Homo sapiens: one gene and its partners. The protein of the gene in region 1 purifies or fractionates together with the protein of each later gene. This does not show direct contact. Each region holds a gene or a part of one and is shown on either strand. Other genes may lie near its edges. The genes, in order: SLC34A2, EPDR1, SLC30A7, LMTK2, ATP6V1A, CNTN1 and ZDHHC18.

Region 1 (3,500 bases):
CTTATGCCCCCTAAGTGTGGCATATTAAGCACCATATTTCCTCTGTGGTTCCCCTTCAAACACTCACCCAGTCGCTAAAGCAAACTACCTCGTACAGTGTTGAGTTAGCTGCATGTACCACCTTTAATCTCGTAAACTTGTTTTTGTCTTGACTCTCTCCTTCAGTCAAAAGCAGGGTGCAACGGGCACCGTGGCTCACGCCTGTAATCCCAGCACTTTGGGAGGCCAAGACAGGTGGATCACCTGAGGTCAGGAGTTTGAGACCAGCCTTGACAACATGGTGAAACCCCATCTCTACTAAAAATATAAAAATTAGCCGGCGTGGTGGCACACGCCTATAGTCCCAGCTACTCGGGAGGCTGAGACAGGAGAATCGCTTGAACCTGGGAGGCAGAGGTTGCAGTGAGCTGAGATTGTGCCATTGCACTCCAGCCTGGGTGACAAAAGTGAAACTCCTTCTCAAAAAAAAAAAAAAAGAAAAAGGCAGGGTGCAAGCCCATTCATCTTTGTTGTCTCATAGCATGCCAAATCCTCACAACCCTTCAATGGAACCCCATCTACTTCTTATATCAAGACAAGTGCACTGCAAATCTATGCAAAACCTTATCCAGTGGAATTTAACAGATTTATACAACTTAGTGTGTATGTGAATATATATGCAGGGGCCAGGCGAGGTGGCTCAGGCCTGTAACTCCAACACCTTAGGAGGCCAAGGTGGGTGGGTCACCTGAGGTCAGAAGTTCGAGACCAGCCTGGGCAACGTGTCAAAACCCTGTCTCTACTAAAAATACAAAAATTAGCAGGGGATGGTGGTGGGTGCCTGTAATCCCAGCTACTTAGGAGGCTGAGGCATGAGAATTGCTTGAACCTGGGAGGCGGAGGTTGTAGTGAACTGAGATCATGCCACTGTATTCCAGCCTGGGGGATACAGAGCAAAACTCTGTCTCAAAATATATAAGTATATGCAGGTGTTCATATACCTTCTGCGTGTTTTACCTACCACCCAGGCCTTCTGTGAAAAGAGTGATGGACCTGGTTTTAAAATCCAGCAGTGCCACCTATTAATGAGTGTGTATTTAGGCAAGTCCCTTTATGCCTCTGAGCATAAAGTGTCAGTTTCTCCATCTATAAAATGGAACAGTTCTTGCAGGGTTATGAGACTAATAGTGAAATTAAAAGTCTAGAAAGTGACTGGCATTGAGGAGGCATCCAATAAATAGCAGCAATTATTACTATGTCATGCTGTCTGGATTAATCATCCTTTGTTAGAACCACATTCTTTTCAGCCTTCAGAAAAGACCTTCTTACAATCTATTTTCTTCACAAGGCCTTTCTCAGTTACATGGTACTTGACACACCTCACATTCCAGTCCTTGCAGTCCTTGTTCTTTGACATTAGACAATTAGTCCTTGTCCATTAGACAAAGCAGTCCAAAAGATTGGAGAAAGGCAATTCACAGAAAAGGAACAAATGGCTAAAATGCCTATTAAAAAAGAAGCAATCCAGGCCGGGCACAGTGGCTCATGCCTGTAAACCCAACACTTTGGGAAGCCGAGGCAGGTGGATCATCTGAGGTCAGGAGTTAGAGACCAGCCTGGACAACATGGTGAAACCCCGTCTCTACTAAAAATACAAAATTAGCCAGGCGTGGTGGCATGCACCTGTAATTCCAGCTACTCGGGAGGCTGAGGCAGGAGAATCACTTGAATCTGGGAGGTGGAGGTTGCAGTGAGCTGAGATCACATCATTGCACCCCAGCCTGGGCAAAAAGAGTGAAACTCCGTCTCAAAAAAACAGAAGCAATCCCATATATTCAAACTAAAACAGTGACAACTATCAAAGTAGCAAAAAGAATTTAAGTTCATTATGCTATGCTGGAGAAGATGTTATGAGTTGAACACTGCTAGAAGCTCTGGAAAAGTTAGCAAACTGTCCAAAGTGCCTTATGTTCATCACACGTCTGTGACCCAGTCATTTCACTTCTAGGAATCAGGAAGCTAGGAATATTTCCTCTCAGAAATTCAGAAATACCTAACTTACTCTGATCACCTCTTCCAAGAGGGCTTCTTAGAGCCTGAGTCCACCTGACTCCTTTCTTCGTCAACCTATTTCCTGCTTACCAGACTGCAAACCCTACCAAAAAGTGGACTTTGTCTTGTCCATCACTTCATCTTTAAGGTCTTGAGCCCTGCCGGGCATATTTATGATAGAATGAATGTGATGTAGACCAAAAAGATATTTGCTGCTCTATCATTTACAGTGTGAAAAAATGAAAAAAGAGAAATTACTCCTTCTAACTATGGTATGTCCATGCATTGTAAGAGCATGCCATTAAAGAGGTTATACTGAATCAGTAAAACCATAGGGAAATGCTTTAGATAAACTTCACATCTAAAGCACTTCTTTTTCCCATTCACAGCATCATCTCAACAAGGCAGACAAGATCCAGAAATGTTCTCTGGAGGTAAAAGGGAGTGGTGAGACTGTGGGTGATTTTTTAAATTTTAGAAGAAAATTATTTTAAAAGATGCAACTCAACCTCTAAGCTCACAAAGGTAAGATGGCTCAGTGATACCTGGAGAGAGGCGAATCACAGTGAGGGAGGGCTGGCTCTGCAGAGGCCTGCCCCTCACTATATGCAACCCTGAGCCACTCTGAGCTTCAGCTTCATCATTGTAAAAATGGGGACAATACCATCTTGCTTACTGAGCTGTTATGAGGACTAATTGGTTAATAAGTGTAGGTGAGGCTAGAGCATGGTGCCTGGCAGAGTAAACACTCGGAACTCTTGTTTATTGTTCATGACACAATGTGGAAATGCACTGTGTCATGAACAATAAACAAGAGTGTTTATTACGTGGAAATGCACTGTGTCATGAACAGTAAATGGCCTCATTTCCACTGTGTGTACCCTAGACTATAAGCTCTTCATCTCCAATGCTCAGCATGGTAGTGGATCTCAGTTAATATTTGAATAAATGAATCCAAAGCCTGTGAGAGAAAGATGCTAATGTTTGTTTTGTGGCAGAGGAGTGTCCTATACAGTTTGTGACCTCATTAAATCTACCAAGGAAGGAGTTTTTCTTCTCAGTGTACAGACAAAGAAACTGAGGCACAGAGAAACAAAGAAGCTTGCCTCCAACTACCTGGAGCTGGTGTCAGGATATGAACCCAAGACTGCTGGCTCCAAAGCCAGAAGCTTTTCCACAGATCTCACAGCCAGGGGCAAAGGGAGGAGAAATTCTCCAGCCCTCAAAGCACCAGGGCACCCAGGGGCCTTAGGTCTAGGCACATTGAGGGCTCTGAGTGTTTTCGGATAGCTGGCTAGATTGGCATGTCTGCAGGTCACTCCCACATGATCATTCAGATGCTGGAAATGCCCGCCCAAGAATGTTGCAATGGATGAGCAGGAGGGGAGGGTGGTGGGGGTGGGGTGGGTGGGTGGGGGTGGGTATTAAATGGTGCAGGCAGAGAATGTACCCTGGAGCTCTGAGCCCCT
Region 2 (3,500 bases), on another chromosome or scaffold:
TCCAAGGGTAAGCCAGGCCGTGCCTGAAGCTGGGCTAGGATGAGAATTTCTATTCAAAAGGACAGGGTGTGTGACAAGGGACAGGTGGAGGGCTTGACTGTGAGAAGAAGAACTCCCACACCTACAGGAAACACAATCCATGCCAAGATACAGCACCTGATGTGGCATTTCCAATGGATATGAAGTCTGGGGCAGATTCTCTTCCCCCATCCTTCACTCCCAAGAGTGCCTGCTGGTACTCAGATACTCCTCATAAGTTATATGTTACCTATTGCTGACAATGCTGCGTCAGGCAGAGCTGTGCCCTTGGCCCTGCACCACCGGCTTCCCATCTGCCACTGTCTTCCCTGGTGGCTTCTGAGATGCTCTGGAGCAGCGTCTTCCCTGAGAGAGCTGGGGCTGTGACTCTGGTGCCTCTTCCAAGGTGAGCTTTTGGCTGTCACTCATCGGCAGGGCCCACATTCTAGAACTCTACCAGAAGATCTAACTTTAAGCCACAACAAAAGCAGCCTTCTGTGAGCGGGCAGGAGTCATCCAAGGCATGTATATCCTTTTCCTCCAGGAGAAGTTGCCTTCTTTAGGGGAGCCATCATCCCAAGAGTTTCTCCTTTCTTTGGGGGGACTGAGGGTAACTTAGGCACCCTGCTAAGGATCTGATTCCTCTTCAGATGGCCTCCCGACTCAAAAAGGCACTGCTTCTGAGAAACTGTGGGTGCTTTAGAAATAAATCTCAAATGCCCACATTGGGTGAAATTCCCCAAAATTGAAATTGAGGCACAAGAGAGACACTGAAGACAGTGTTTGATGAGAGGGCAGTGGGGGAGTGGCTCATGGGCGAAAGGAGTTTGGGGCATCCACTCTCTGGAGGTGGTGGTGTGCCCTCCACTTCAACCCTACTGGAAAACTTTTCAAAACACTGCAGTGTAATTCGATGTCAAAAATCATTCTTAACAGAAAAGAGGTATAACGTAACATATAAATGAAAAACCATGAAACCATTACATAAATCTATCATTTTATTGTCTAAGAAATTTAATTATAAGGAAAAAAGGAAAGAAAATACATATCTATTATTTAGGTATCCTTCTACAATGAATGTATATTATCAGTTATTCATTTCCCTCATTCACTGATTCAAAAAAAAATAAAAATTAGTCAGGCCCTGCTCTTAGCAGTTAGAAAATGGAGCTTGGGAATCGCCTTCTCCGACATCAGAACACAGCTCTTTTCATATGGGACAAGTATTCGTTTAGGTCCCACATAGTATGTTGAAAAGAATGTAAAGTGTTCTGAGGAGTTAGAGACACAGCAACAACCATACAAAACCCCTGGCCTTACGGAGCCTTATTGTGCATGAGGGAAGGTGGGGGAGATGAAGGAACAAACTTTAACGTTAAACACTCTGCCAGATAGTCATAAGTGCCTTGGATATATTAATATAAAGCAGTGAGGGGGCACTGAGAATGTTGAGCAGAGAAACAGTTCAATTTGGGAGTAAGTCATGCAGCTTCTTAGGAAAAAGTCTTTCTAGGCAGAGGGAATGACAGATTCAAGTGCCAATGGGGTCAGCGTGCTGAGGCCAGGTCCACAATGAGTGAGCTGGTGACAGAGATAAGGTAGGGAAAAGGCTGGGGAGCAGATCCTGAGCCAAGAAGTGGCATGACGTATTTTCAAGAGAACCCCTGGGGTTTCTATGTGGAGAACAGACTAAAGGGAGCAAGGTCCGAAGTGGGGACAACTGTTAGGAGGCTATCATAAACATCCAGCCGAGACATAATAAAAGTTTGGGCCAGAATAACAGTAGAGGTATGGTCAGATTCAGTATATATCAAAATTAGGGTATAGGTAGGAACATAAAGAGATGAGAGCCTGAGCCCTGGGAGAGTCCACTATTAGCAGTCCAGAGAAGAGCAGAAAGAGCAAAAAGGCTTGAGGAGAGGAAATAAGGTGGGAGAAGGAAAACCAGAAGACTAGCATGTTGAAAGCCAAGTGAAGACAGTGCATCAAGATTGGGGAATTAATCTACAATAAGATGAGGACTGATCAAAGATTGGTTGATTAGTAATGTAGAGCTTCTTGCTTTTGACCAGAGTATTTTCAATAGAATGGTGACAAAAGTGATTGGAGGGTGTTCAAGAGAGCATGGGAGTACAAAAATTGTAGTTAGCATGAGATTTGCTTTAAATAGAAGAGGAGAATGAGATTTCAGCTGGTAAGATCAAGAGAAGTTTTTTTTTTTTATTTAAAGATGGGTAAAATAAAAGAAAATGTTAAGGGGGAAAATAGAAATTTTTTACTGGAATTGGTGAAATCTAAGACTATCATATTTATTCCAGGAAAAACAAACCACTAATTGGTGGAATATTTTCAGATCTTTGGGCACTTTGCCCCTGACCACCATCCTCAAGGTCAGAATCAGGAAGAAACAGCTCAAGGTTATTGGAGAAAGTAAAGATGTTTTCAAAGCAGTATAGTGACCACCTCTGGCTTCCATTCGTAAATTTGTCTTACATTCCATCAGCCTCCTTACTCTCCTGGGCTTATCTTCTTTGGATCTTTTTTCCCCAGTGCCTGCTTCTCCCTCCCCATCTCAGCATTAATTGTCTGAAATCCAGGGTCTATAGACACACTGAATTAAGTCCCTTAAATCAAACTTTGTGTGCTTCCAAGAAAATCTGTTTCTTGAAGAAAAACTCAAATATTGCGAAACTCAAGTATTGCAAATCAGTATGGTTTATTCTTTGAGGATCAGGAGGCCACAAGCAGTCAAGACTTCCTCAGCTCACAAAAGAATATGCTATCTCCAGCCATCTGAGACCAAAATGATGGAGTAAAGGTCAAAGGAGAAGTCATGCTCTTAATATTCACAAAGTCGTGATTTCTTAAAATGAAAATCCAATCCATGCAAGACAAGATTCATGATCAAATAGATTTATTGAGCACTTTATATTAGTCTGCCTCCCCCAGTCACACAGAAACACCCTCTGAGGATTTGTAATGATGACATACTGAGAATCCAAAAGCAATACAAACATATGTTAAGAACATAATTTCATCTACTCCTTTCTCTTGAACAATTTAGACTAAAGCCACTAGGTAGGACCAAGGAAGATAGGCTTCTACATGGGCTGGCCTGGAGCGCAGAGCCCATGTGTGAAGGAGACAGCGTAATGATACATGACTGGTTACCTACTGCAATTGAATAGTAAGCCAGTTTTCTCACTGGCTGAGAAGGGAGTAGCAAAAATGAAAGGAAAAAAAAAACTAGAATGAACCATGTAGTGTTGGATTAGAATGAAGGCATCAGTTTAAACACCTGTATGGATTAGAACTGGAGGTTCAGAAATAAATATAGATGTAAATGTGTATATATGTATGAGTGTGTGTGGGGAGGGATGTGTGTATTCAAACTTAACACCCCTTGCTTTGTCCATTGAGAGGACCTGGTAGCAGTGCCACCTGATAGCACTGAGCATGACCAGAGCACAGGTTCTAACTTC
Region 3 (3,500 bases), on another chromosome or scaffold:
CACTTTGATCTCTGACTTCTAATCTCCAGAACTGTGAGACAATAAATTTCTGTGGTTTAAGCCACCTAGTTTGTGGTGTTTTATTACACCAGACTAGCAAACTAACACACACTCCTTTTTTTCAACAAATTTACTTTATATGCACCCAACATAAACCAAATATTGCCATAATGCAAAAAATAAAAATAAAAATAAAAATTCCTTTTGCACAGAATAGCAGTCAGGTTCCTTTTAAAGAGGTGTGGATATAGCACGGCAATTTTAATACTCATCAAAATGAAATTTTATTTAAATTTTAAGTAAATTTAATTAGCATTAAAATGTTATTTTTAGTACTTAATAAAATGTGACTACCTGAAAAACTACTCCCTCTTCTGAGATGGAAGAACATTATGTTCTCTTAAAACACTGCAATATGAGATCTTTTCCCTTAAACTTGATATCATGATTTAAAAATTACCTAGCTGCAAATACACAAACTCATGGGAAAAACAGTCTACTTTTAGCTCTCTGCTGACCTATCACATGTAAAAATATTGCTTATGAGGAAGGTCAATTTTACTGCTCATATTCAATCTTAGCAAATGTTTCTGATTATGAATTATATTTAAACTATAAATTTAAACTATAAATTTCCTTAAAAAATAAAGGTAGCATAGAGAATACCTAAGGTTACATGACTGAAACACCAAAGGTAACTTCAGTAAACCATGATAAAGTAAAGCTGGTTGTGAAAATCCACTTACTTGTCGTAGACTCCTCTTTAAGCACTGCTAGTTTCTCTAAAATGTATTTGTAAACTCTTTTAAATGACTACCTTCTAAAGACATTTTAACATGGAAAACCAGCCGGGTGCAGTGGCTCGTGCCTATAATCCCAGCACTTCCGGAGGCTGAGGTGGGTGGATCACCTGAGGTCAGAAGTTCAAGACCAGCCTGGTCAACATAGAGAAACTCCCATCTACTAAAAATACAAAAATTAGCCAGGCGTGGCTGTACTCCCAGCTACTTGGGAGGCTGAGGCAGGAGGATTGCTTGAACTCAGGGGGCAGAGGTTGCAGTAAGCCAAGATCGCGCCACTGCATTCCAGCTTGGGCAACACAGTAAGACTCCGTCTTAAAAAAAAGAAAAAGAAAACTTCTACGTGTATAAAGGAGAAACCTGAATACATAAATACAGAAGCAAAAACAGCACAAATGTCAATAGAATATATGGCAAAAGAAACTTTTGAAAAGAATTTTATTTAGGGTCTATTGGAGGCAAAAACAAAGGAAGGGAGAAAGAGAACCTATAAATTAAGAGCAACTTAAGAGACATATAAGCTAAATACTATGTATGGATCTTGTTTGATTTCTAATCTGTAAAACCAAATGTAAAAAGAATTTATGAGACAATGAGGGACTCCTGAATACTCGTTAGCTGGATATTAATGAGTCATTAATTTTCATGGGTGATAATGGTTTTGGGTTATGTTAAGGGGGGGTGGATTTTATCTTTTAGAGAAGCATAATGAAATAGTTATGGAAGAAATTACATCTTGTGTCTGCTTTAAAACAATCCAATGGTGGGACAGGGACAACAGATGAAATAAGATAGACCATGTATTGATAAATGTTAAGGCTCAGTGATGGGTACATGAGGTCCATTAAATGCTCTACTTTTACATATGTTTAAAATACCCAGTGATAAAAAATTGTTTAAAAGGTCTATTGGTAACTAAGCTAACGGTATATTTATATTGTTTGTTAAACGTGTTCAAAATTGAAAATAAGGAATCATCATAATTCAGAAATCCCTTACCAGGTACTTTCCATGATGTGGAAAGTCAGGGAAAAACACTGTCAATTTATTATCAGGAAATTAGAAAATTCTTAGAATCCTGACATTAGCAAAGTCAATAAACTAAATGAGTTACAGTGAAATAACCCAGAACTCCACTACATTCCATTATATAGTCCCTTACTTTAAAAAAAATTCTAAGCAAAATGGAATATTTATCTATGTTTTTAAGGTGGGAAATAAAATTATAGGAAAGCAAAAGCCATCACCATAAGCTGGTAAGTAATGCTGCCTTTTGAGAAGGAAAAAGTTGATTTTAAAAGACTAAGATATATGAAAATTTTAATAGAAAAACATGTGATTGATAGAAGTATTTTTCTTCACTAAGGAATTACTTTACAAACATCTGCTGTGAAATATCACACTGAAGTAGAACCAAATAAATGTCTGGTATTGTCTTAAACATTTCTTCAACAAATATTTACTTTGTTAACACAAAGACATTAACCTTTAGAGTTACCTGAGTGTCTTCTATGTCTAAGGGAAAAATGGTTGCAACAGCTTTGGTAAGAAATACTACTGAAATTAAATCTGTTAAAAATGAAGTAAAAATGTAAGAACATAAAAACACAGAAACTATATTGAGATACTAGAAAAAACCAGTGTGATGTTTTTTGGACATCAAACTTGGACAATAGGTGCTGTAGGCTCTGCTGCTCACTTGGGAAGTAAAAAACTCTAGGCCTCAATTTTCCAACTATAGAAGATGACAGGTTAGTTTGTCTCTCTCTCTCTCTCTCTCAAGTCCCACTTCCAAAACCTACACTATCCACATATTCTCTTTCTTCCTTAGTAAAAAATCCTTGACTTTCCGCAGAATACATGGCTGAGTGGAATAAAGACTACATTTGCAACTAGGCATGACCATGTGATAAAATTTTAGTGAAAGCATTGTGTGTTAGCATCCAGGTAAATCTTAAAAAAAAAAAAAATGTGCACACCTTTTACCTCTTTTTATCTGCATTCCAGACATTATGCTGCCAGGGATGACTGAAACACTAGCACCCATCTTGGAAATGAAGTTTTATCTTGTGTAAGCAACCATTATTTTAGGTTTTTGTTTTGTTTTGAAACAGAGTATTACTCTGTTGCCCAGGCTGTGGGGCGGTGGCTCAATCTCGGCTCACTGCAACCTCTGCCTCCCAGGTTCAAGGGATGCTGGTGTCTCAGCCTCCATGTAGCTGAGATTACAGGTGTGCAGAGTTTTTCTGTAACTTGAAAACAAACTTAACCGTAGATGATACAAAACCACATTGTTACACTATGTTACCTTGAGATTAGTCAGTTACTCAACAATAAATTAGTAAATGAAAAATAAAATACTAGAAGGAAGGGAAAAATCACATAGAATTTCTACCATTTTCCTCCCAATTTCTAAGAGTGAGAGAATGGAATTTAATGTTTTGTCATTGCTGTTTTTCCTTAACGGGGTAGTTACCATTTTTAGTATAGGTAGTGTAATTCCATACATTAATTATTCCCTCATTCTTTCATTTAGCAAATATGTATTAAGCATCCACTATGTGCTATGTACTGAAGTGCCTGCATAAGATAGAAAAGATCCCTACATTAATACAGTTTACGTTCTAGTGGGAAGGTGAAAGGTAGCAGATATTTATTGAGGGGAAAAACACACAACAACTACCTATTGTTCCACTGAAG
Region 4 (3,500 bases), on another chromosome or scaffold:
GTTGTTTCTGAATGTTTTCTGTCCTGGTTGGTTGACTCTGAGGATGTGGAACTCTCTGATCTGGAGGGCCTCCTGTCCTTCTGTTCTTTTTCATTATTGATGTTCTAGGTTTCCTTCTGGAACCCTTTCCCTTCTAATTAAAGAAATTTAACTAGCTTTTCTTTTCTCTCTTTTTTTTAAAAACCCATTTTTTTGCAGGATTCCTTTTATTTTTAAATAAATTCTCTTAGTTTTTTTTTCCATCTAAGACTATTTCACACTCATTCCTGAAGCCTGTTTTCTCTGAGTGTAGAATTCTGTGTTGATAATTGTTTTCTTTCAGCATTTTAAAAATGTATCCCTTCCTTCCACCCTCCACGGTCTCTCATGAGAAATTTGCAGTCACTCAGATCATTCTTCTCCTAGAAGTACAAGTGGAGCGTCCCTTATCTGAAATGCTTAGGACCAGAAGCATTTTAAATTTCTGATTTTTTCAGATTTTGGAATATTTGCATTATACTCACCAGTTCAGCATCCCAAATCTGAAAATTTGAAATCCCAAGTGCTCCAGTGAACACTTTGGGCGTCATGTCAGCGCTCAAAAGGTTTTGGATTTTGGAGCATTTTGGATTTTTGGTTTTCCGATTTGGGATGCTCAAGCTGTAATACATGTTTTATCCCTGGCTGCTTTCAAATCTTTGTCTTTAGCTTTCAGCAGTTTGATTATGGTGCATCTGAGGGTGGATTTCTTCGTGTGTGTGTTTTGTTTTGTTTTGTTTTGTTTTGTTTGAGACAGAGTCTTGCTCTGTCACTAGCTGGAGTACAGTGGCACGATCATAGGTCACTGCACCCTTGAACTCCTGGGCTCCAGTGATCCTCCCTCCTCAGCCTCCTGAGTAGCTGGGGCTACAGGCGTGCACCACCACGCCTAGCTAATTTTTAAATTGTTTGTAGAGACAGCATCTCACTGTGTTGCCCAGGCTGGTTTTGAACTCCTGGCCTCAAGGGATCCTCCTGCTTCAGCCACCCAAAGTGCTGGGATCACAGTTGTGAGCCACCCCACCTGGCCCAATTTCTTTGTATTTATCCCGTTTTTGTTTTGCTAAACTTAAATCTGTAGTTTTGTATCTTTCACCAAATTTAAGAAGTTTTCAGGCATTCTTTTCTTCTAGTACTTTTTCTGCCCCACGCCCTGTCTCCTCTCTTCCTGGGACTCCAGGGTTAGACCCTGTGTATTCTCTCATAGGTTCTGAGGCTCTGGTCCTTTCTTCCTCCAGGTTTTTTTTTTCTTGCTCTTGTTTGGATTGGGTGATTTCTGTTGCTCTGTCTTCAAGGTCCCTGATGATTTCCTTCGTCATCTCCATTATGCTGTTGAGCCCATCCATTGAATTGCTAGATTTTGGTTATTATACTTTTCTTTTCTGAGTTTTGCTTTTTGTCATTCTTCTTATCATCTGTTCCTTTGCTAAGATTTTCCCTATTTCTGTTCATGGTAAGAGTGTTTCCCCTTAGTTGTAGGAGCATTTTTATAATAGTCCTTTTTCAGATAATTCCAACATCTGTGGTACGGTGACACTGGCACCTGTTGATTGTCTTTTCCCAGGTAAATTGAGGTGTTCCTGGTTTTTGTATGTGAAGTAATTTTAGCTTTTGGATCCTCCTATCATGTTAGGCAGTCTGTGCCATGTGTAAATGCTGTGAATCATGTTGATACTTTTACCTTAGCAGGCCTTGACCCGGTGGGTGCAGGCCACAAGCTCCAAGCAGCCTTCTGTGGGTTGTGGTTTCAGTGTCAGCTCCCAGTTCCCCTTTCAAAGCCTTCGCTGTGCTGTTTGAACCTGCCCCACGTGTGTGCCCCGCACCCCACCCCGGTCTCCCCTGAGGTTCATTTTCAAAGCTTGGGTGTGTTCAGAGTCAGATCTACCACACACAGCCCAGGAGCCCCCCAGCAACTTCATCGGGTCACCTTTTTGAGCTCCTCCCTCTTCTGTGATGTCCCTGATACTTGCAGTTCTTTGGGCCTCTGCTTTCTGGTCCCCTAGCTAGAAAGTTGAGGCTTTAGTTACACGATGTGCCATACTTCCTGCAATCGCACGCGCATCTGGAGCCAAGCAGTGGGAGGACAGAAGGGAAAAAAACTCAGCGAGGGTCCCCTCCCGCTCGTGATCACAGTCCTCCAGTGGAGAGGAGGCTTCATGGCCCTCAGGATTATAGGCAGCTGTTGCCCCAGGATTGCTTGAGACTGGAGAGCAAGAGAACAGAGAAAAGAAGAAAGCTGGAATTCCCCCTTCTCTTTCTGAGCATCAGAAGACCCCCTTCCTGCTCCGAAGCCAGAACCAAGGGCTTCTCCTGGAGCACTGTGTCCAGGGCAGTGCCCACTTTGGATTCCGGGCTGACCTGAGTCCAGGCGGGGGATTGTGGAGGAGAAGCCGACACACTTGTTGCTGGTGGGTGGCACCTTGAGCACTGCCGCTCGTGCCCGCCTGCCTGCTGCTCTGCGCTTCTCTGCAGCCTCAGAGGGCTGCTTCATGCCTCTGCCGAGGTCAGAGCTGCAGGCAGAGGGAGAGACAGGGCCTAGTGTCTGTCCGTCCTCCCAGGCCTGGAGCCGCCCTTGTCTTGAGACGCTTACTTCTCAGTCGATGAGTCTGATGCGCCTGCCAGTGGGGAAGCGGTCACACGGGGGGTTCCCGTGAGCAGGCCTTTGCTGACAGGAGTTTCTGTTTGACTTTTCAGGAGACCCCAACCAAAGAGCTGGGGCCCTGTGGAGGAGAGGCGTGCGGCCCGGACCTGAGCGGCCCAGCCCCAGCCTCAGGCTCTCCCTACCTGAGCAGGTGCATCAACTCCGAAAGCTCCACCGACGAAGAAGGTATTTCACGTCATTGTCTAGTTTTAAAGGAAACTGAAAAATTGAGTAATGTAAAGGTTTTTTGAGGGTAACTTCCCATGTTGCTTTAATGACGCCCCCTGACATGGGCACAGAACTGCCATCTGCCAGCCGGGCCGGGCTGTGTCTTCCGACCTGCAGGGCGCACCTGCCCAGAGGCTCCCCCTCTCCCTCATCACGCAGTGATAAAAAGGGTGGGGTTTTATTTTTTATTTCTAGGTGGTGGCTTTGAGTGGGATGATGACTTCTCCCCAGATCCTTTTATGTCAAAGACAACAAGTAACCTGCTCAGCTCCAAGCCTTCTCTCCAAACATCCAAGTACTTTTCTCCGCCGCCACCGGCCCGGAGCACGGAGCAGAGCTGGCCGCACTCGGCGCCTTACTCCCGGTTCTCCATCTCTCCCGCCAACATTGCCAGCTTTTCCCTCACACACCTGACCGACTCGGACATCGAGCAGGGCGGTGAGAGGCGCTGCGTGCTGGGGATTGGGAGTGCAGGGTCGGGGGTGGGGCGCTGCAGCTGGGAGATGGTGGTTTTGCAGGCCTGATAATCTCATGTCTTCTTCACATTTGCTGAGTAGATTACAAACTTGTTTTTATAAAACTCCCATCATCAGCTGGGTGCAGTGACTCCTGC
Region 5 (3,500 bases), on another chromosome or scaffold:
ACGTTTTTTGCCACTACTAACATTGAAAATTGAAACACTGTTGCAGCTAACACTCCTGTAAACTCTTACTGGTGCTTTTATTTCTAAGGAAAAGATTACATGGAGTTAGACTGATGGGTGGAAAATACATGTATTCTCAGTATTAACTGATGTTGCTTGATTGTTTACTAGGAAAAACTCTAACACTTCACATCTCCGCTAGCATTTTATGAGATAATCCTTCTCCACATATCCCTGCTAGCAGTAGGTTTACCACTTAATTTTTGCTTGTCAGAGAAATAATATTTCATTGTTAGTATATTGATTACTAGTAAGGTTACACATCCTTTACTGTTTGTTGAATGTTTGGATTTCTCTTCTGTGAACTTCTGGTGACATGTTTTATCCATATTTTTACTGGGTGAACTTTTTCTTAATTGGAAAGAGTTCTTTCAATGGTTAACTCATCTGTTACATATATCTCAAGCCTTTTTTTCCGCCTGATTTTGTCTTTGGTCCTTTATTTTTGCCACTAAAGAATCCTTCGTTTCCATGCAGTCTCATGTGTCTATCCATACTTTTATGACTTTTAGGTTTCCTATCTTGGTTTAAAAAACTACATCTGGATTGTTTGTATAAAGGAAATTTAGGAGATTAATATCTTAAATATTTTATTGTTTACATTTAAGCCTCTAATCCATCTGAAATCAGTTTTTGCATCTGTTGCAATGTATTGGATCAATTATATTTTCTTCTAGATGAGCAAGTTGTATCAGTTAACATTTATGATATATATGTGCCCTTTTTCACCATTGGATTGAATTATCCCTTTGAAATGTGGTAAATTATCTTATATACTGAGATTTACTCTGCTTTTTAAAATTCTGCTGCACTTATATACTTAAAATTAAAAATATATTTACACACCTATAAAATTAAATAACTTACTCAGCTACCTGGATGAGACAAAACATTTTCACTTAAGATATCCAAGTAGTTAAGATGAAAGAATTATTTAGGTGCCTTAATTTTCCATATCAAATTAAGAAATATTTTGCAATGCCTACTGACATTATGAATTCAAATATACAGAAGGTATAGTAATAAATTTTAATTTTTTCTTTAATGCATCAATCTAGAGATAATTACTTATTTTGATGCATTTCCTTACAACTTTTTCCATATGTATATACTATTATTATTATACATATGCTCTTTTTTCAATTTTAAAGGTATTTTCCAATTCAATTAGTCTTCTCTATTGTACCTTTAAACATTAAAAAAATTAAACTAAGAACTAAAAACTTATAAAGTCTGGTTGCTTTTCATTGCTCAAGCACATCTGAAACTCTTCTATATCATATCATATACCACCCATTTTATTTTCAGTGAAATAAGCTTAATTATTTTTCAGAAAAGAAACAAAATGTGGCATGTTGCAGATAAAATTTTTTTAAAGGCTTACCAAGAGAACAGTTTCAACAGATAGCATTAAGATCCAAAACTGAAATTTTTGTTGTTAGTCATAATAATACCAAAAATAATAGTGATTTTTAAAACCTTAAGATATAAGAAAGTGTTTCCTTCTAAAATTTAAATCTGAAAATACTTATGATATACCATTAATTTTTAAAAACAGCTAATCACAGTTGTAAATTTATTAACTAGAGCTAACTACAAAGAAATATACAGAAAGAGGAGTTTCAAATGTAAATAAATCATTATTCTAAAGATCACTTCAGTAGTTTCAGGTAAAAATAAATATGTTACTACGAAGATACACAACCACTTCAGCTGTCTTTATATATACATACACACACATTGCGTACTTTATATACTACAAATATTTACTCTATATATAGTATATACATAATATGTATATACTAAATATAAATGAATACACTTATAAAAACCAAAGTCGCTATCATTTCACCATAGGGAAAAAAGAGAATAGCAAAACTAATATTCTCTTCAGAAATTATATGGAAAACATTTTTATTGCTCACATTTCATTTATTTAAAATAAAGTTACTTAGTATAAAGAATAAATTCATTCCTAAATCAATAAATCCATTTGTTATAATAGACAATCAACATTAAGGAAAAGTCAATAAACTTAATAAAATCTTTCCTTAAGACAAATGAGTAATTTTTTTTTTCAGGAATAAAGTGATTCATAAACTCATGATAGCTATACTTACTGTTTAATTTGCTGATATTTTCCATTGCAAAACTACTAACCCTTGTGAATCATGAATTTAAGAAGGGAAGAATTTTACTCTAGTTTATGTCTCCATTATGTTCTCTACATTTCTTTGTCTATTTCATATAAGGATAAAAATAAGATATAAAAACACTTAATTTTTTTAAAAAGACAAAATTTTTAAGCTTATAAGCATTAACTCAAAAGTCCCTGCTCTACAATCTGTACAATTTTAATATACTTCTATAATCCATTGCAGGAATAAAAACTTCAAAATTGAAGAACTGCCTCCTTAAATTTATTCCATACATTAATGATTACAAGCTTTGGAAAATCTTTATATAGAAAATATTAAGACACTGCAGTTGCCCAAATAAGGGACTTTATCTTGATATTTTTCAGATAAAATTAATAAATCTGTTTTAGAATCTTTGCTACAAGTACACTTTTCTTGTTCCCCCATTTTTTGGGTAATAGCTTCTTTTCAAATTCTACTCTCTTCTTCATGCCCCAAACCTGCTGCTCACAGGGACATCAGTCAATTCTGTGGGTTGTCTTAAGTCTTTAGAAATTCAGTATATAAAATCAAAGTAGTTATCAGTAAAATTAATTAAAAATTTTTTTTACAAAATATGTTCTAGGCATTTTACATTCATGATCTAACTTAATAGCACCATCTATAGATTTAAACGTGAGAAAACTTAACCTTACTTAAGTACACTGTCCAAAGTCACACAGTTATTAAGTGGTAGGGCCAGAACTTCAACTAGGTCTCTATGACTGGGAAATCAATTCATGTAAAGTCTGAGCTACACTGCTTTACCATTTTACACACCACTTAGTTTTTTTTGTTTTTGTTTTTGTTTTTTTTGAGATGGAGTCTCACTCTGTTGCCCAGGCTGGAGCGCAGTGGTGTGATCTTGGCTCACTGCAACCTCCACCTGTCGGGTTCAAGTGATTCTCCTGCCTCAGCCTCCTGAGTAGCTGGCACTACAGGCGCGTGCCGCCATGCCTGGCTAATTTTTTTAATTTTTTTAAGTAAAGACAGGGTTTCACCGTGTTAGCCAGGATGGTCTCGATCTCCTGACGTTGTGATCTGCCCGCCTTGGCCTCCCAAAGCACTGGGATTACAGACACCACTTAGTTTTTAAGATATTTTCACATAGATTACCTAGGGTTTATGTCATAGGAAGGTTCCTAAGTATCAAACCTGAACCCCTCCCCAGCATTACGTAAAAGGACATATAACTAAAGTGGCAGAGCTGAATGAAGATCCTCTGACTTTTAGTCTAGTGCTAGTCCACTTATAGATCACGCA
Region 6 (3,500 bases), on another chromosome or scaffold:
ATCAAATGAATCTACAGTGACGGGATATAAGGTATATACAAATAGTGATGATTAATGTTTGCAATTCTTGCTATTTCAGTGAAACCCAAGATGGGTTTCTTTTCTTTTTTTGAGATGGAATTTTGCTCTGTCACCCAGACCGGAGTGCAGTGGTACAATCTTGGCTCATTGCAGCCTCCACTTCCTGGGTTCAAGTGATTCTCCTGCCTCAGCCTCCCAAGTAGCTGGGATTACAGGTGCCCACACCCACACCCGGCTAATTTTTGTATTTTTAGTAGAGACAGGGTTTCACCGTCTTGGCCAGGGTGGTCTCGAACTCCTGACCCCAAATTATCCACCTACCTCAACTTCCCAAAGTGCTGGGATTACAGGCATGAGCCACCACGGCTGGCCCCATTCAACTTTCTTATTCTATTTAATAGTTGTAGAGCAGAATCAGATAACGTAGTGCCATGATACATTTTGAAATGGAAAACATTATCTTCAGTGAATTTCAGCAAAATGTTATGTCAAAAGTGTAAGATAAGTAGAATACTTTAAAGATAAAATAGAATAATCAGAGCTTAAGGAGGAGAGAGAACGAAACTATTTTTGTTTGGCAATGATTATGATAGGGTTGCCCAGCACCCAGAAAACTCCTTGATAAACTGAGTTACTGTTTATAAATGAATAAAAAGGAGAAAAGCTTATTTTAAATATATTCTTTATATCACACACTATCACATTTTTCACTGGATACCAAATTTTATGGAAAATGGTAAAAATAAAAATTGAGAGACAATTTTCAGACCATTTCAATATATTTTAAAAGTTCTCATTTTGGACTTTTTTCTTAAAAAGACTCATTCTTTCTATATTTTTATTTTGGGTCATCTCAAAAAATAAAATTCAGATGCTTAAGTCACATCTCCTTGGATAATCCTACAAACTTGCAAAAATCAACTATTGTGAATTGAAACTAACATGATTTTTTTCATCTAGTTTTAAATTTAGTTTTTCCTCTTGTTTTAAATTTATTACTTTTTGTTAATCAAAGTATAAGCATTTTTATTCTGGTTTTAGTGTTAGAGCATTGGCTCATTATTATGACTTTACTGCATATTTACATTTCTGTACTTTATAAGGTACTCTACAGACCTGATGGCCAGCATGATGGCAAGCTGTATTCAACTCACAAACACTCCATAGAAGTCCCAATCCCCAGAGATGGAGAATACGTTGTGGAGGTTCGCGCGCACAGTGATGGAGGAGATGGAGTGGTGTCTCAAGTCAAAATTTCAGGTAAGTGAGTCATTTAAGACACATTTCAACTAAGTACTTGTGAGTTTCTAGACCCTGTGGATTCCCAAGGGTAGGGATAAGCCTGATACACCAGTGTCCATATTTTCCTAAGTAGATTGGACATATCAAGGATTCCCTGAAACTTGGTATTTCTCCTCTTATGAGTCACAAAAGTAAGTCTGTGACATACCACATACTTCTTGATTATTATCTGGATGTCAAAGCACAGTTGAAATCTTTCAGACATAAGACGAACGAGTTTTTGGGATCCAATATACAGTATGGAACATATTAGTTTATTTGATTGTGGTAATCATTATACAATGTATACATATATCAAATCTTCATGTTGTTCACCTTGAATATATTTAATCTTTGTCAGTTAAATATTTTCAAATAAAAAGCACAATTAAAATGGCATAATTTATTGAATACTATATAATACTAGGCTATTATTTAATAATAACCAAACTTCTATCAAAAGGAAATACACTAGGCTATTTTTAATACTCTTATAACTCTTTCACTTGGACTATAGATATTGATATAGTAGTAAAAGAGAAAAACACTAAATTATAGCCCCTTTGTCTTTTCTCTTTCTCTATCTTATCTATTCCTTTTCTACAAACTCTATTTCTCACACCTTTGTTTGATTTGGAAATACATATATTTGAGGCAGTCATTTCTTTTTTTTTATTTCTGGCAATCTGTTATTTAATTTTTGACATATTTTTCTTAACCTATATGCATGATATAGTTTAATTATACTGAATTTCAATAGATGTTAATTTGAGAAATGTATGAGAGGCTTTGACATTACCAGAAGATCCTAGAACAAAGATGATAATAAATAATTTATAAGAAAATTTGGTTAATCTGTACAACAAACCCCATGACACAAGTTTACCTGTATAACAAATCTGCACATATACCCCTGAACTTAAAATAAAAGTTAAATTTTAAGAAAACTAAAAAAAAAGAAAATTGAAAATTTGGTGATTTTGATATAAAGAAATAAATATGCTATATATTAAACCAACAAAAAATCCTTTACCACAATGCCAGAGTATTTAATGGTATTTAATAAATGCTGGCTTCAATTGTATGCCATGTTTTTGTGAAGTTTGCCACAATACATATATACATCCTTTACAAATCAAAATAGAACTTTGATTTTTTTTAGTTTAATCATCAGCAATTTTGTCTTTTAAGAAAATAGAGAAATTACAGAGATGTGAAAGGAAAAGAAAATAATCATGTTCCAAATACCCTAAAATAGCTACTGTTAATGCTTAGTTGAATTTACTTATAGTCACTCTGTATACATATATAATTTCATGTTTCAGCTTCCATTTTTGTAAATTATTTAAAAATTATAAATGATATTCTTTCAAACAAATATGCAAACTCATTAAAGTTTTTTTCTATCATAAATAATACTTTTAGAGTCCATTTTCATAAATTAATCTTTCTTCTGGTTAAATTTAAGACAAAGTGTTTTAGGTTGCTAAATTTCTTCAAAAACACTTACTAATTTCTATTCCTATTATCATTGAGTATAAGTGCTTTTCTCACTGTACCACTCTAATATTATTGTCTTTTTAGTCATTGCTAATTTGACAGGGGAAAATAGAATTTTCTTATTTTTGAAACATTTTCTATATTCAGAACTTTGTCAACATCTTCAATAGTTTTACACTTAGTGGGCAGTTTCACAAAAGGAAATCAGAGGGAAATATGGCCATTATTTCAAGGAAGGTAAAGCACAAATAACTAAATAAATTGCTCTTGAACCCTGGGCCTTCTTTCTCTTGTGTAGAAGCCAGCCACAGCGAGCTTTTGCTCTCTGTACTCACCCTTGGTTCATCATTCCTCACCGAAAGGAGAACCTAGCTTCTGGGATTTAGACTAGAGGTTTTCAGCAAGAGATGATGTAGCAGTGATGGTAACATCAGTTTACCTATCACTAATGGCACTGGTAAATGTTAAACAGTAGAATCACTAGGGATAGGGGAAAGCCCTGTTTATAATGTTTGCCTGTTTCTGTGGTGTAAATATTCTCATTATGTGTGATTTCAAGCTTTCCAAGTGATGTCACTTAATATGGAGCTGTGAAGAGCTACCCAGTAGCACATCATTATATGTAATTGCCACCATACAGGTATAATAAGAACCTAAAAAACATTTGACAACATTATAATATAGTAAAATATTAAGAA
Region 7 (3,500 bases), on another chromosome or scaffold:
GATTAGAGGATGAGGCAGGGCACCCACCCAGTGAAGGGACCTCAGTTCCCACTGGAGTGTCCTCTAGCTGACAAAGGATATCTTGCTGGTGTCTCCTTCAGAGTGGAGAGGAAGTTGCTTCCCTGAGCGCCTGGGGAGAAAGAAACAGGAGAGGACAAGCTCAGAGGGACAGTGACTGCTGAAGCTTGCTGACCCTTGAGCTTGCTGGCTGACCCCTTCCACTCCCCACTGCCCTCACCCACAACTCACGCAACGTCAGGTGGGTGACCACACAGGCGAAGATGAAGGCCGTCAGGAATGAGAGGGAGAGAATAAACGCGTAGAAGAAGCGATAGTTCCGTCTCCCCACACAGTTGCCCACCCAGGGGCAGTGATGGTCAAATCGTTCTGGACAAGGGCAAGGGGCGATGGGTTAGTGTGGGCTGGCCTGCAGCCAGCACAGGCATTTGGCGGCCTCACCCATGGCTGGGGCTTTCCTACCCCGTTCACTCTCGCAGCACCAGCTGGCTCCCAGGCCTTGGACACACCTGCCTCTGGTCCTTTGTGTACCAGTTCCCACTGCCTGATACATTCTCTCGTCTCTTTACCTGGTTAACTGGAACTTCTCCTTCGCGTCTCAGCTGCAAAGCCACCTCCTTAAGAAAGTCTCTTCCAATCCCAGACTAGGGGAGGGGGCCCCTGTTATCTGCCCCATCACTTCTCTTTTGTCACACTCTGCCCATGTGTGTTTTTATGCTTATTTATAATAACTGGATTGGCCAATCAGCCCTACTTGACTGTAAGCTCCATGGGCGAGGGGGGCTGTGCTGGTCTTACACCATGCTGACTCCCCAGGATCCAGAGCAGTGCCGGCACAAAGACTCACAAAAATACTTGTCACCTGGTCTACCATCCCAACCACATGCTAACAGTCAACAACCCGTCTCCTGCTCTAGGACTAGCGGCCCAGGGAGGGGCTGAGCTGCAATGGGGTTCACAGCCAGCCAGCATCACAGGCCAGGTCAAAGGGCTGAGCTCACCTGCACACTGTCCCCGGGGGTGGAGGCACACCCAGACTGGTAAAGAAAGTCCTTGTGGGAATGTGGGTCACAAGCCCATTGCAGGCCTCATGCCAAGGCCAGTGCCCTTTGCACGGCGTGGGCGGGGCAGCTCCTTGGGGATGAATGGTGCCCACTGAGTCACCCCCTTCACTGCATGCCGTCACGGGGGGGTGTTCCCTGCTGTTCTCTTGCTTAGGGAGTACTGAGCTGGCATGATGAGCTCACTGCCCTGGGAACTATGCACAGTCACTGTGGCTCAGCTCACCTGGGCCCTCTCATGCATTATTTCCCTTACAACACCCTCTCAGGGTGCCCATCAGAACTACACAGCCTCTGGAGAGCAGGGAGAGGGGACAAAACAACCACTGCAGGCAGCTGTAGGGTCAGGAGCCATTTCCAGTGGTGACATCCTCTGCACCTCATCAGCTTAAACGCCTCTGTTGCTAGATGCTTTTCCCTCTCAACTCTGGGAATCAGATCAAAGTTTTTCAGTACAGCTGGCCCTGGGCCACTGGACAGTAACTCATTCTTTCTGGCCCAAACACATCTGGAATGTTATTGTTCCAGTCTGTTTCCTGGGAGCTTGGACCTCTTGAGGACCGGGCTGAAGCCTGGGAGAAGGGTTCAAAGCCTGTCTGTCTGCCCCACACCTCAGAGCTGGGGGAAGGAATCCACCAATCCTGAGCTGAAGCCAAAACACTCCTGGTTATGCTGAGGGCCCCTCCCCTGGGCCCTCCTGAGTCAGGGCAAATCTGGGTGAACCAGACCCCCTGCCCAGCCCTGGGTATTTCAGACCCTGCCCACGCCATCCCCATGCTTGATGCCCCCCATCCCCACGACTCAGTCTCTCTCAGGAATCCCTGCATCCCTCCCTGCTGCCTCCTACTCACCCACACAGTTGTCGCAGACACTGCAGTGTGAGGTTCGGGGTGGCCGGAACATCTTGCAGGTGAAGCAGTACTTCAGCTTCACCATCTGCCCGTTGATCAGCACCTCCCGGGTCCGAGGGGGTGGCCGGTATGTAGAACTGCCTGTGTTGTCTGAGGGAAGGAGGAGAGAAAGATGGGGAATGCCCAAGGCAGCCCAGGGCCCGGATCCCCAGCAGGGGAAAGCTACTGCTGCCTGGCCAGTCCAGGAGAAGCCTCAGGGTAACAGGTTCCCAGGAACAAACATTGGAGTAAAATGTCTGGCCTAAGGCAGGGACAAATATTAGGAACTGCCACCATGTACTGAGACTGCCTCTGTTCATACACCTGCCGGCCTTACCCACTCTAAGAAGGGCTGTCAGAGAAGGAGACTCCCAGAAAGCTTAGTGAGGGTTTTTTTTTTTTTCCTGAGGCAGAGTCTCACTCTGTCGCCCAGGCTGGAGTACAGTGGCGTGAATCTCAGCTCACTGCAACCTCCACCTCGCAGGTTCAAGCGATTCTCATGCCTCAGCCTCCCGAGTAGCTGGGATTACAGGAGTGTGCCACCACGCCCAGCTAATTTTTGTATTTTTAGTAGAGACAGAGTTTCACCACGTTGGCCAGGCTGGTCTGAACTCCTGACCTCAGGTGATCTGCCCACCTTGGCTTCCCAAACAGCCAGGATTATAGGAGTGATGCACCGCGCCCAGCCAGTGAGGTTTATTTGCATCTCATCAAGCCTAGACCTATGTCCCAGTTTACAGGAGGTTCAGGAGATGGAGGAACAAAGTGAGTAACACAATGAGGAAAAAGTCAGATCTAGAATATGAGACATTTACAAGACTGCTGGCCTGATCTCTAACAAAAGTCAATGTCATTTATAAAAAGAGAGAGGAGGTCGGGTGCAGTAGCTCACACCTGTAATCCCAGCACTTTGGGAGGCTGAGGAGTGAGGATCACTTGAGCCCAGGGGGTGAAGGCTGCAGTGAGTCAAGATCACGCCACTGCACTCCAGCCTGGGCAACAAAGCCAGAACCTGTCTTAAAAAAAAAAGAGAGAGAGAGAAAGAGAGGCAGAGAGGAGATGATTCTAAATTAAAAGCGATTTAAGAGACATAAACAAATGCAATACATCATGGATCTTATTTTGAAAAACAAAACAAAACACAGCAACAAAAGACATTTGGAGGGCAACTGTGGAAATCTGACTACAGATTAAAAACTACGAAACAGGCCGAATGCAGTGGCTCATGCCTGTAGTCCCAGCACCTTGGGAGGCCAAGATGGGAGGACTGCTTGAGCCCAGGAGTTCAAGATGAGCCTGGGCAAATAGGAAGACCCTATCTCTATAAAAAATGACAAAAATTAGCCGGGTATGACGGCGTGTGACTATAGTCCCAGCTACTAAGGAGGCTGAGGTGGGAGGATCATTTGAGCCCAGGAGTTCCAGGCTGCAGTGAGCATGAGCCAGGATCACTCCATTGCACTCTAGCCAGGGTGACAGAGCAAGACCCTGTCTCTAAAAACAAACAAAAATTAGGGAACAATTGGCCAGG

What was found.
Region 2: the proteins of SLC34A2 (region 1) and EPDR1 purify together in Homo sapiens (affinity purification with mass spectrometry; one large-scale study listed by BioGRID and IntAct). This does not show direct contact.
Region 3: the proteins of SLC34A2 (region 1) and SLC30A7 purify together in Homo sapiens (affinity purification with mass spectrometry; 2 studies listed by BioGRID and IntAct, with this or other methods). This does not show direct contact.
Region 4: the proteins of SLC34A2 (region 1) and LMTK2 purify together in Homo sapiens (affinity purification with mass spectrometry; 3 studies listed by BioGRID and IntAct, with this or other methods). This does not show direct contact.
Region 5: the proteins of SLC34A2 (region 1) and ATP6V1A purify together in Homo sapiens (affinity purification with mass spectrometry; one large-scale study listed by BioGRID and IntAct). This does not show direct contact.
Region 6: the proteins of SLC34A2 (region 1) and CNTN1 purify together in Homo sapiens (affinity purification with mass spectrometry; one large-scale study listed by BioGRID and IntAct). This does not show direct contact.
Region 7: the proteins of SLC34A2 (region 1) and ZDHHC18 purify together in Homo sapiens (affinity purification with mass spectrometry; 3 studies listed by BioGRID and IntAct, with this or other methods). This does not show direct contact.

What each region holds. Positions count from the first base shown.
Region 1 is NC_000004.12:25,658,851-25,662,350, reverse strand, and holds part of SLC34A2 (sodium-dependent phosphate transport protein 2B), read right to left. Parts: intron 1-3,500. UniProt on the Homo sapiens protein: Involved in actively transporting phosphate into cells via Na(+) cotransport.
Region 2 is NC_000007.14:37,927,140-37,930,639, reverse strand, and holds part of EPDR1 (mammalian ependymin-related protein 1 isoform 1 precursor), read right to left. Parts: intron 1-3,500. UniProt on the Homo sapiens protein: Binds anionic lipids and gangliosides at acidic pH.
Region 3 is NC_000001.11:100,899,090-100,902,589, reverse strand, and holds part of SLC30A7 (zinc transporter 7), read right to left. Parts: intron 1-3,500. UniProt on the Homo sapiens protein: Zinc ion transporter mediating zinc entry from the cytosol into the lumen of organelles along the secretory pathway.
Region 4 is NC_000007.14:98,200,862-98,204,361, forward strand, and holds part of LMTK2 (serine/threonine-protein kinase LMTK2 precursor), read left to right. Parts: intron 1-2,712; coding exon 2,713-2,845; intron 2,846-3,082; coding exon 3,083-3,325; intron 3,326-3,500. UniProt on the Homo sapiens protein: Phosphorylates PPP1C, phosphorylase b and CFTR.
Region 5 is NC_000003.12:113,750,035-113,753,534, reverse strand, and holds part of ATP6V1A (V-type proton ATPase catalytic subunit A), read right to left. Parts: intron 1-3,500. UniProt on the Homo sapiens protein: Catalytic subunit of the V1 complex of vacuolar(H+)-ATPase (V-ATPase), a multisubunit enzyme composed of a peripheral complex (V1) that hydrolyzes ATP and a membrane integral complex (V0) that translocates protons.
Region 6 is NC_000012.12:41,027,939-41,031,438, forward strand, and holds part of CNTN1 (contactin-1 isoform 1 precursor), read left to right. Parts: coding exon 1-31; intron 32-1,124; coding exon 1,125-1,281; intron 1,282-3,500. UniProt on the Homo sapiens protein: Contactins mediate cell surface interactions during nervous system development.
Region 7 is NC_000001.11:26,847,188-26,850,687, reverse strand, and holds part of ZDHHC18 (palmitoyltransferase ZDHHC18), read right to left. Parts: intron 2,081-3,500; coding exon 1,931-2,080; intron 388-1,930; coding exon 250-387; intron 131-249; coding exon 82-130; intron 1-81. UniProt on the Homo sapiens protein: Palmitoyltransferase that catalyzes the addition of palmitate onto various protein substrates, such as CGAS, HRAS and LCK. Acts as a negative regulator of the cGAS-STING pathway be mediating palmitoylation and inactivation of CGAS.